2 linked regions of the Homo sapiens genome follow. The protein of the gene in region 1 interacts with the protein of each later gene in a pairwise test. Each region holds a gene or a part of one and is shown in the gene's direction. Other genes may lie near its edges. The genes, in order: ZNF84 and WDR4.

Region 1 (4,423 bases):
CACTAACTCTACCTTAATTTGCACATGGGACCCAAGAAGAGGCTTGAAGAGACAACTGCACATGGTCGGGGACTTTCCAGACTTCCTTTTTCCTTCACCATTCACCTGTGAATCCCAGAATCCACCCTCTAAACCTTTTTTCACAATAGTGCTGCCTTAAGGGCAGCACAGAGAGATAGATTTGAACTAAACTCCTGTCACTTTGTTGGTCAACTCGCAATTAAGCTTTTCTTTTCTCAAACGCCTGGTGCCATAGTATTGGCTTCTGTGCACATCGGGCAATGAGGTCTTTTGCGTAGCAGTATTTGGATATCCGGTTTCCTCACGCTATTTATTGAAGCGACTGTCCTTTCCCCATCGTGTATTCTTGACACAAGATTAGTTGACTTGCCTAAGATTAGTTGACTGTATATGCATGGGGTTATTTCTGGTTTTTCTACGCTGTTCCACATTGGTCCATGCGTCTGTTTTTATGCTAGTACTTCACTGGTGAGTTCTACCTCTGGGAATAAATATAAGAATTCTCTAATCACTGGATGTTTGAAGCAATTCACTAAGCAACTCATTATGATGCTTTCTGGCAAAGGATCTCTGAATTTGTCTTCAAATTGTGGATAAAATTGGGTCAAATTTGGCCCATGTTGTCCTGGAGAATCATTTGTGTCACAAATTATCAAATTTATTAGTATAGAGCGGATTTTCATTCAATTTCCTATGTGTCTATGGTTATTTCTCTTTTTTCATCTCTCTCCTCCATCTCCCCGGCCCCATCTTGCTGTCATAAGCATCGTGACTTACCTATAATTCTCCCTACGACTCCAGTTATGGATCAACTTTACTTTTTTCTGTTAATTCTTACCTTCTTTCCATAAATATATTTAAATTTTTTCTGGTTTCCTCAACTGAAGTCAAACCAATTGAGTATTGGTGGGCCGGGCGCGGTGGCTCACGCCTGTAATCCTAGCACTTTGGGAGGCCAAGGCGGGCGGATTGCCTGAGCTCAGGAGTTCGCGACCAGCCTGGGCAACACGGTGACTCCCCGTCTCTACTAAAATACAAAAAAATTAGCCGGGCGTGGCGGCGGGCGCCTGTAGTCCCAGCTACTCGGGAGGCTGAGGCAGAAGAATGGCGTCAACCCGGGAGGCGGAGTTTGCAGTGAGCCGAGATCACGCCACTGCACTCCAGCCTGGGTGACAGAGCGAGACGCCGTCTCAAGAAAATATATATATATATTGGTGGATTCGGTTTCCCTTTATGTTTCTCAGAAAACCGTGTGAGCCCGTTTGGAGTCACTCCGTCTCCAAGCGACAGGCACTTCCGGACGCGGGGCACTGTGGGAAGTTGAGTTCGCGGGGCTCCTTCCTTCGCGCATGCGCACATGCACTCTTGGTAATGCTTGCAGGTGGCCCGTTCTTCCTCTTTGTCCTTCGCTGCCACGTGAGAGGGGAGTGTACGCGTGTGCGCGCGTGCGAGTGTGCGCGTGTGCAGTCCCCGACTCGTCCCGGCCCGTTCGGAGCCGCCCGGGAGCGCACAAAGGCCGACGGTTTGGGCGCGTGCGCGGGACACGGGGGACGGGCGGTGTCACGTGATCGCGAGGCCGCGGGCGCGCGGGCGCGACTCGGCGGCGGCGTCTTTTGTGAGTTCAGTGAGTTTATTGCGGGCCCGGCGCTGGGGGCTCCGGGAATGGCGGGGGAGGCGCGCGGGAGTGGCCGCGGGGAGCTTCGGCTTCAAGGCCCTGGGCGTCCGCGCGCGGATGCGGGTCTGGGGCGGGTTGGGGCTGGGCCGGGTCGTGAAGATGCCGTGGGCCGCGGAGCTGCGCGGATTCTGGGCTGTGGGGCGGGCACGGCCTTTCCGGAGGCGCCGCTCCTGGGCGTCCTTTCAGGCGGGCGTGGAGGCGCCAGCCTCGGGCGCGTTTAGCCTCGGGCGCGTTTAGCCTCGACCTCGGGCCAGCCCGCTTGCCGCGCCGTGGCCCTAAGGAGCGGCTGCCCTGCTGGACCGCATCCACCAGCAGCCTGGCTCTGCCGCTATCGAAGGAGGCTTTTAAAGCGCTGGGGTTACAGGTGTGAGCCACCATTCCTGGCCGTGTATTTTTTAATGGTTATATTTATTGACTGTTTTAAATTTTTTAAGTGACTTTTGCTTTTGGTATGGTGTAGCGAAATCTCCCCTCAAATTATACATATATTCATTCACCTGTGGTTTTTTTTTGTAGACATTCTTAGGGTTTCCATTATTTTAAAATTTAACCCACTGAAAGTAGTTGTATGAAATAGCTACGTTTATTTTCTTTCAAATATTCTTGTATTCATTAAATAATTTAATTTTACTGATGGCTTTGAAATGCTACATTTATTGCATGCTGACTCTTGCATATTTAGACAGTTTGCTTTTTTTCATCTGTATAACTTCTCTGGAGCCAGTGTCAAATGTTATAATGATTATAATTTGTATGTATTACAGTGGGCCTGTTCACACTCATTATTTTGTATTTCCAAAAGCATCCAGGCCCGGTGTGGTAGGGCATGCCTGTAGCCCCAGCTACTCTGTAGGTTGAGGTAGGAGGATCACTTGAGCCCAGGAGTTCAGGGCTGCAGTGAGCTATGGTTATGCCATTGCACTTCAGCCTGGACAACACAGTAAGACCCTGTCAAAAAAAAAAAAAAAGTGTCCGAATTGTTCTTGAACCTTTTTTCTTACACATAAACTTTAGAATTTTGAGATTCTGATTGGAGTCGATGAGTTATATAAATCATTTGAGGTCAAATTATCTTCACAATCTGAAGTCTTCCTATCCCAGAATAAAATCGAATTATAAATTTCTTTAATTCTATTTTTATAGTTCTCATTGGTGTTTTTAGTATGCTTCATATGGGTCTTGATATTCCTACATATTTTATGTATTTTGTCAATTATGAGTCGGATTTTATTTTTTTGTTATTTTATGTGAGTTGTTTATATCTTACAGAAATAAGGTTATTGACCTGGAAAGATGTTCTTCACATAATGGGAAAAAAACAAAAACAGCTTTTAAATATGACCATATGCTTCCATTGTATGAAAAATATCACAATAGTTTCCATCATCCTAAGAATGGTTACCTGTGGTGAGATCATAGATAATAGTTCTTATTTAGCTTGTGTATGTTTTTTATATTTTGCCATCATATATTACTTTTATAATAATAATTATAGCTAGTATATGTTTCGTATGACTGTGTGCCAGCTTTTGTTCTAAGATTTATGTATTATCACAATTTAAGGTATAAAGGAGTCATTTCTTGTATAACTGGGAGAAACTGCTGTGTGTTTCTGAGTTGGCACTGAAGTTTGAACCACAAAAAGGCATGAAAAAGAAAGTGCTGCTTGTTAGTGTGATACAGTTGAGGCAGGGCGTCCTTCATTTATATTTTTGTGGGAATTAGTGACTGAATGTGTGCATGGGAATAGGAGCTGACTCCAGGATTTATGTTGTGTGTGTTTGTGCATGTAGATATGCACAAATGACAATATGACTTTAGTATTCATGCTTTGAACATAGCAGGATAGAGAATTAACATTTGAATTTTGCTACTTACTAAATGTGCAATCACAGGCACATTTTACAATCACTCATTGTCCCAGTTTTCTCTCTGTAAAATGGAGATTATGTTAAACGCCTTATAGGGTTGTGCATGAGTTAAATTTAAAATGCTTAGTATATTGTCTCACATACAGAAAGCACTGGAATGTTAGCTGTAACTGTTATTACAAGGCCCCAGTCGCTTTCCTTTTAACACCTCATTTGTTTCTTAGACTCCCATTGTGAGGTCCACTTTATCTTCACCATTTTAGCAAGTACAGAAATTGAGGCTTTGAAGGCAAGAAAGGAGGGGGGAAAAACAGTAACCACAATAAACATTAAATGTATTCAATTTGTCAGTTAAAAGACACACTGTTGGTTTGGATTTTTTTTTTTTTTTTGAGATGGAGTTTCCCTTTTGTTGCACCAGGCTGGAGTACAATGGCACGGGCTGCAACATCCACCTCCCAGGTTCAAGCAACTCTTCTGCCTCAGCCTCCCAAGTAGCTGAGCTTACAGGTGCATGCCACCACGCCTGGTTTATTTTTGTATTTTTAGTAGAGATGGGGTTTCATCATGTTGGTCAGGCTGGTTGAACTCCTGACCTCAGGTGATCCATCTGCCTTGGCCTCCCAAAGTGCTGGAATTACAGGCGTAAGCCATCGCTCCTGGCCAATTTGGATTTTTTTTTTTTTAAACACCAATAAATTTGAGCTCTGAGCTGCTTATAAGGGACAAAGATAATGATGCTAAGATTTTTAGTGTAGTTGACCAGATGATAACATACCACGTAAATACCAAAAGAATGCTGAAGCCAGGTGTGGTGTTGTATGCCTATAATCCTAGCACTCTGGGAGGCTGAGGT
Region 2 (3,807 bases), on another chromosome or scaffold:
GAGGGGAGGAGCCACGCTGGTCTGTCCTCGAAGGCCTCATCCTCTTGGCGGCCAGGCTGCAGCTTCCCTGCCTTCTTCCATGAGGGACTTGATTCGGGAAGACTCAGGTGAGCGGCTTTTTCTTTTCTGGCCCCTGGTGATGCAGGCTGTGAGTCCTGATGACCGCTTCATCCTCACTGCCGACCGGGACGAGAAGATCCGAGTCAGCTGGGCCGCGGCGCCCCATAGCATCGAGTCCTTCTGCTTGGGGCACACAGAGTGAGTGCCCCTTCCTGCCCCTCCAGCAGAAAGAAGGTCTGTTTGAAAACAGCGTCAGCTTGCGGCTCAGCAGGTGCCGTTGTAGCTGGCGAGGCCCCACGCGGGTGACAGCAGCCCCCGTGCTTGGTGTTTGGTCACTGCAGGCGCCGTGGTGCTGCCTGCAGAAGCCCTGAAAGGGTGGGGTTCACTCTGCGCTGTTACCCGGAGTCTGTGCCAGTAACTTGGCATTGGGCCTGACCGAACAGGAAGGGCTTGTTTCCGGGAAACCCCTGTCTCAGTGTGGAGACCCCTGCACCATGCCCGGGAGTTGTTCGCTGGTGGGTGGTGGGGGTGTTGGGGGCGAGGATGAACTTTAGTGATTTCAGCTGTCCAAGAATTAAGCGGCCTCTGCAGCCAGGTGGCGGCGTCTCTCGTGGCAGCACACTCTGCCAGGACCCATGTGGAGGTGTTTCTGAATGCCCGCTCCTGTCTCACACAAAAAGCTCATTAGAATTTACACAAAGGAAAAACGCTTAGTGTAATTGGCTGAAATGTTTTAAAATATATTATTTGAGGCAGTGGAAGAAATTGGAGGGAGGAAATTCAGTGCCGAGGTTGCCTGTGTTTTCCTGGTTTTGATCCAAACATTTCCTGTTTAAGAAGGCCAGTCACTGGTGTGTGCCTCAGGATAGCTTCTTCTGACTTGCATTTAGTTCGCTAGTGATCCAGCTCTGGAGTTCTCTGGCCTGCAGCCCCCCGGCCCCTCCCCTTCACCATCTCTCGCTGGGGTCTCTGCAGCTCCCTTGCCTCGCCAGGCACGTGAGGGAGGTTTCTGCTGACGGGAACACGCTTCTCACCCTTCTAGGGAAATGCTTCATCACTTAGAAGTATTGAGTAAAAACATAGTATTAAAATTAACTTCAACTGCTCCCTCCCTCCCTCCCTTCCTTCCCCCCTCCCCACCCCACCCTTCCCCTCCCTTCCTTTCTTTTCTCTTTCTTAGCTGTGTCGCCCAGGCTGGAGTGCAGTGGCGTGATCTTGGCTCACTGCAACCTCTGCCTTCCAGGTTCAAGCGATTCTCCTGCCTCAGCCTCCCAAGTAGCTGGGACTACAGGCCCCTGCCACCACGCCCGGCTAATTTTTTTTTGTATTTTTAGTAGAGACGAGGGTTCACTATGTTGGCCAGGCTGGTCTTGATCTCCTGACCTCATGATTCGCCCGCCTCGGCCTCCCACAGTGCTGGGATTACAGGCGTGAGCCACCGTGCCCGGCCTGCCCGTTTACTTTTCAACATAGTGGCTGGCAAATTGAAAACAAAGCCCCGTGGCCCCTGTGTGTGGCTGGAGGTGTGTTTCTGCTGGATGTGCTGTTCTGTGCCCTTTGCTGACATTGCAGTATCAGTTGGTTCACTGGCCGTCTCCCGCTGCGTCTGAGTGGTTCTGTGGGTCTGTTGGGCCTGTTGGTGTGTGCAGCCCTCAGCGTGGTGCCTGGCATGAGTAGGTGCTCAGTAGATAACTGCAGTGATTGGACGAATTATGTTTTGAGATTTTGTTTCAGACCCCTGGAAACTGGTTTCCCGGCCTTTCAAACCGTTGAGAACTGTGAGGCCACTCGTGCCCTCTGCACGGGGCGTCCTGTGCCCTATCTGTCCTGGGCTGTGGGCTGCTGTTGGTGCTGTGGTGCCGTGCAGGGCGGTGGCTGCGGGACCGGGCCCGGCTCACGCGATGGCTAGCCCAAGGTAGCAGAGGCCATGACTGGTGGAGATGGAGTGAGGCTCACGGGCCACCCCATTCCAGGGTCCCCGGGAACCCCGTGCATGAGGGATTGCTTGAGGCCACTGTGTTAGAGTGGGAAGAAAAGGGGCCTTGTCACCCTTGTAGGTGCCCGAGCCAAGATGGGTTTCCAGGCGAGCTGGGCTGCTTGGGTTATTCTTCATGGCTGTTCTGATGGGAGGGTCCCTGTGACTTTGAGTCCTGTGCTTGCAGGCCAACCCCTCACAGGAGGACTGGGCCGGGCTCAGCAGAGACAGCTGTCTGGCCAGGTCACTCAGAGTTGTTGCTGAGGGGCCGTCAGGACCCTGATAGGAACCTGTGGGCTTGGCTGCCCTCCTCCCTCCACCCTCCTCCCTGTGTGCTGTGTCTTTGAGTCTCCCCCGTGTCTTTGAGTCTCCCCCAAGGCTCCTTTCATCACAGTGCAGGTGCCTTGGGCCAGGGTGGGTGCTGGGGGGCCTGTAGAGGTGCCGCTGAGCAGAGCTGCTGCAGAGGGGGCTGCAGAGGGGCACAGAGGCGCTTGGGTCTCTGGCAGGCATGGCTGAGGAGCGGCCTGGGTTAGAGGTTGCTGTGCTGTTGGGGACCCAGGAATGACCTCACTCACCTCCCCGACTGCGTCCAGGGGCCTCCACCTGGTTAACCCTAACCAGGTTAGGGTTAACAGCTACTTCCCATGTTGGCTGTTTTTATTGGATCAGGGGGTTTAGGGCAGAGGCTTCTCTTCCTTAGATGAACAGGCGGCCTCCCCAGGCCTCCCGGTCCCTGCGGGCGCTGGGCTCGCTGACTCTGCCGCTCTCTCTCGCCCTCACAGGTTTGTGAGCCGTATCTCCGTGGTGCCAACTCAGCCCGGGCTGCTTCTGTCCTCCTCTGGGGTAAGTGTTCTGCCCAGCGTCACTCACCTCTGGATTCTTGAGCCTGCAGGGAGGGTGGGGTGGGCGCCTCCTGGACCTGGCCCCTGTGGATCGCTGGCCCCTGGCTGGCTGTGGCTGTCCACTAGATCTTAGAGCTGCCTGCGGCTCGCTCCCCGCCTGCGGCCGCTCACTCAGGACTGCGTGTGGGGTGTGCGTAGGTGCGTGTGTGTTCGCCTGTGGGATGAACTAGCACGGGTGTGTGGAAGGCTCCCTTCTGAGGGCGGCTGCTGCATCTACGATGGTATCGGGGATCAGGATCTCAGGTAGAAACAGTAGACGGGGGCTTCTCTGACTCTTGGAGGGGTCTCAGTCCATCCCATTACGGGCTGCATTTTTTTTCCTTTTCTTTCCTTTTTTTCTTTCTTTCTTTTTTTTTAAGATGGGGTGTTGCTACATTTTTCAGGCTGGTTTCAAACTCCTGGGCTCAAGCGATCTGCCTCCTTGGCCTCCCAAGTAGCTGGGACCACAGGCTCGAGCGCCCGCACCCGGGTTACCACAGTGCATTTTTGCTTGTTGGGTACAGCTTCTGTGTCCCAGCAATTGGGTCCTGGAAGCCTTACAGTTTAGTGATGAGAGACGTGTTTTCTCTAAGGAATGTGTTAGAAGGATTGTTAGTGATTTTGCCAAAGTGAGGGCCTTGGATTCCTCACAGGGTCTGATTCTGTCCTCTTGCGGAATTGTTGCCCGCACACCACCACCTTCCTCTTCGCTGTCCTTCCCTGTGTTGTCTGTGTTGGTCCTTTGTGTGGTGTGGCAGGATGGCTGATGGACCTTCTGGCCGCTTCTATGTTTCTTCTCTGATTGGGCTTCATTCACAGCCTCCTGTTCCTGCTCTTCAAATTAACACACAGCCACGCGACCTGAGAGAAGAAGAAAAGTGTGGCCATAAT

Evidence for each region.
Region 2: the proteins of ZNF84 (region 1) and WDR4 interact in a two-hybrid assay, tested with the Homo sapiens proteins (one large-scale study listed by BioGRID and IntAct).

What each region holds. Positions count from the first base shown.
Region 1 is NC_000012.12:133,035,910-133,040,332, forward strand, and holds the start of ZNF84 (zinc finger protein 84), read left to right. Parts: upstream 1-1,599; 5' UTR 1,600-1,636; exon of another isoform or gene 1,637-3,103; intron 3,104-4,423. UniProt on the Homo sapiens protein: May be involved in transcriptional regulation.
Region 2 is NC_000021.9:42,858,733-42,862,539, reverse strand, and holds part of WDR4 (tRNA (guanine-N(7)-)-methyltransferase non-catalytic subunit WDR4), read left to right. Parts: intron 1-145; coding exon 146-258; intron 259-2,817; coding exon 2,818-2,878; intron 2,879-3,807. UniProt on the Homo sapiens protein: Non-catalytic component of the METTL1-WDR4 methyltransferase complex required for the formation of N(7)-methylguanine in a subset of RNA species, such as tRNAs, mRNAs and microRNAs (miRNAs).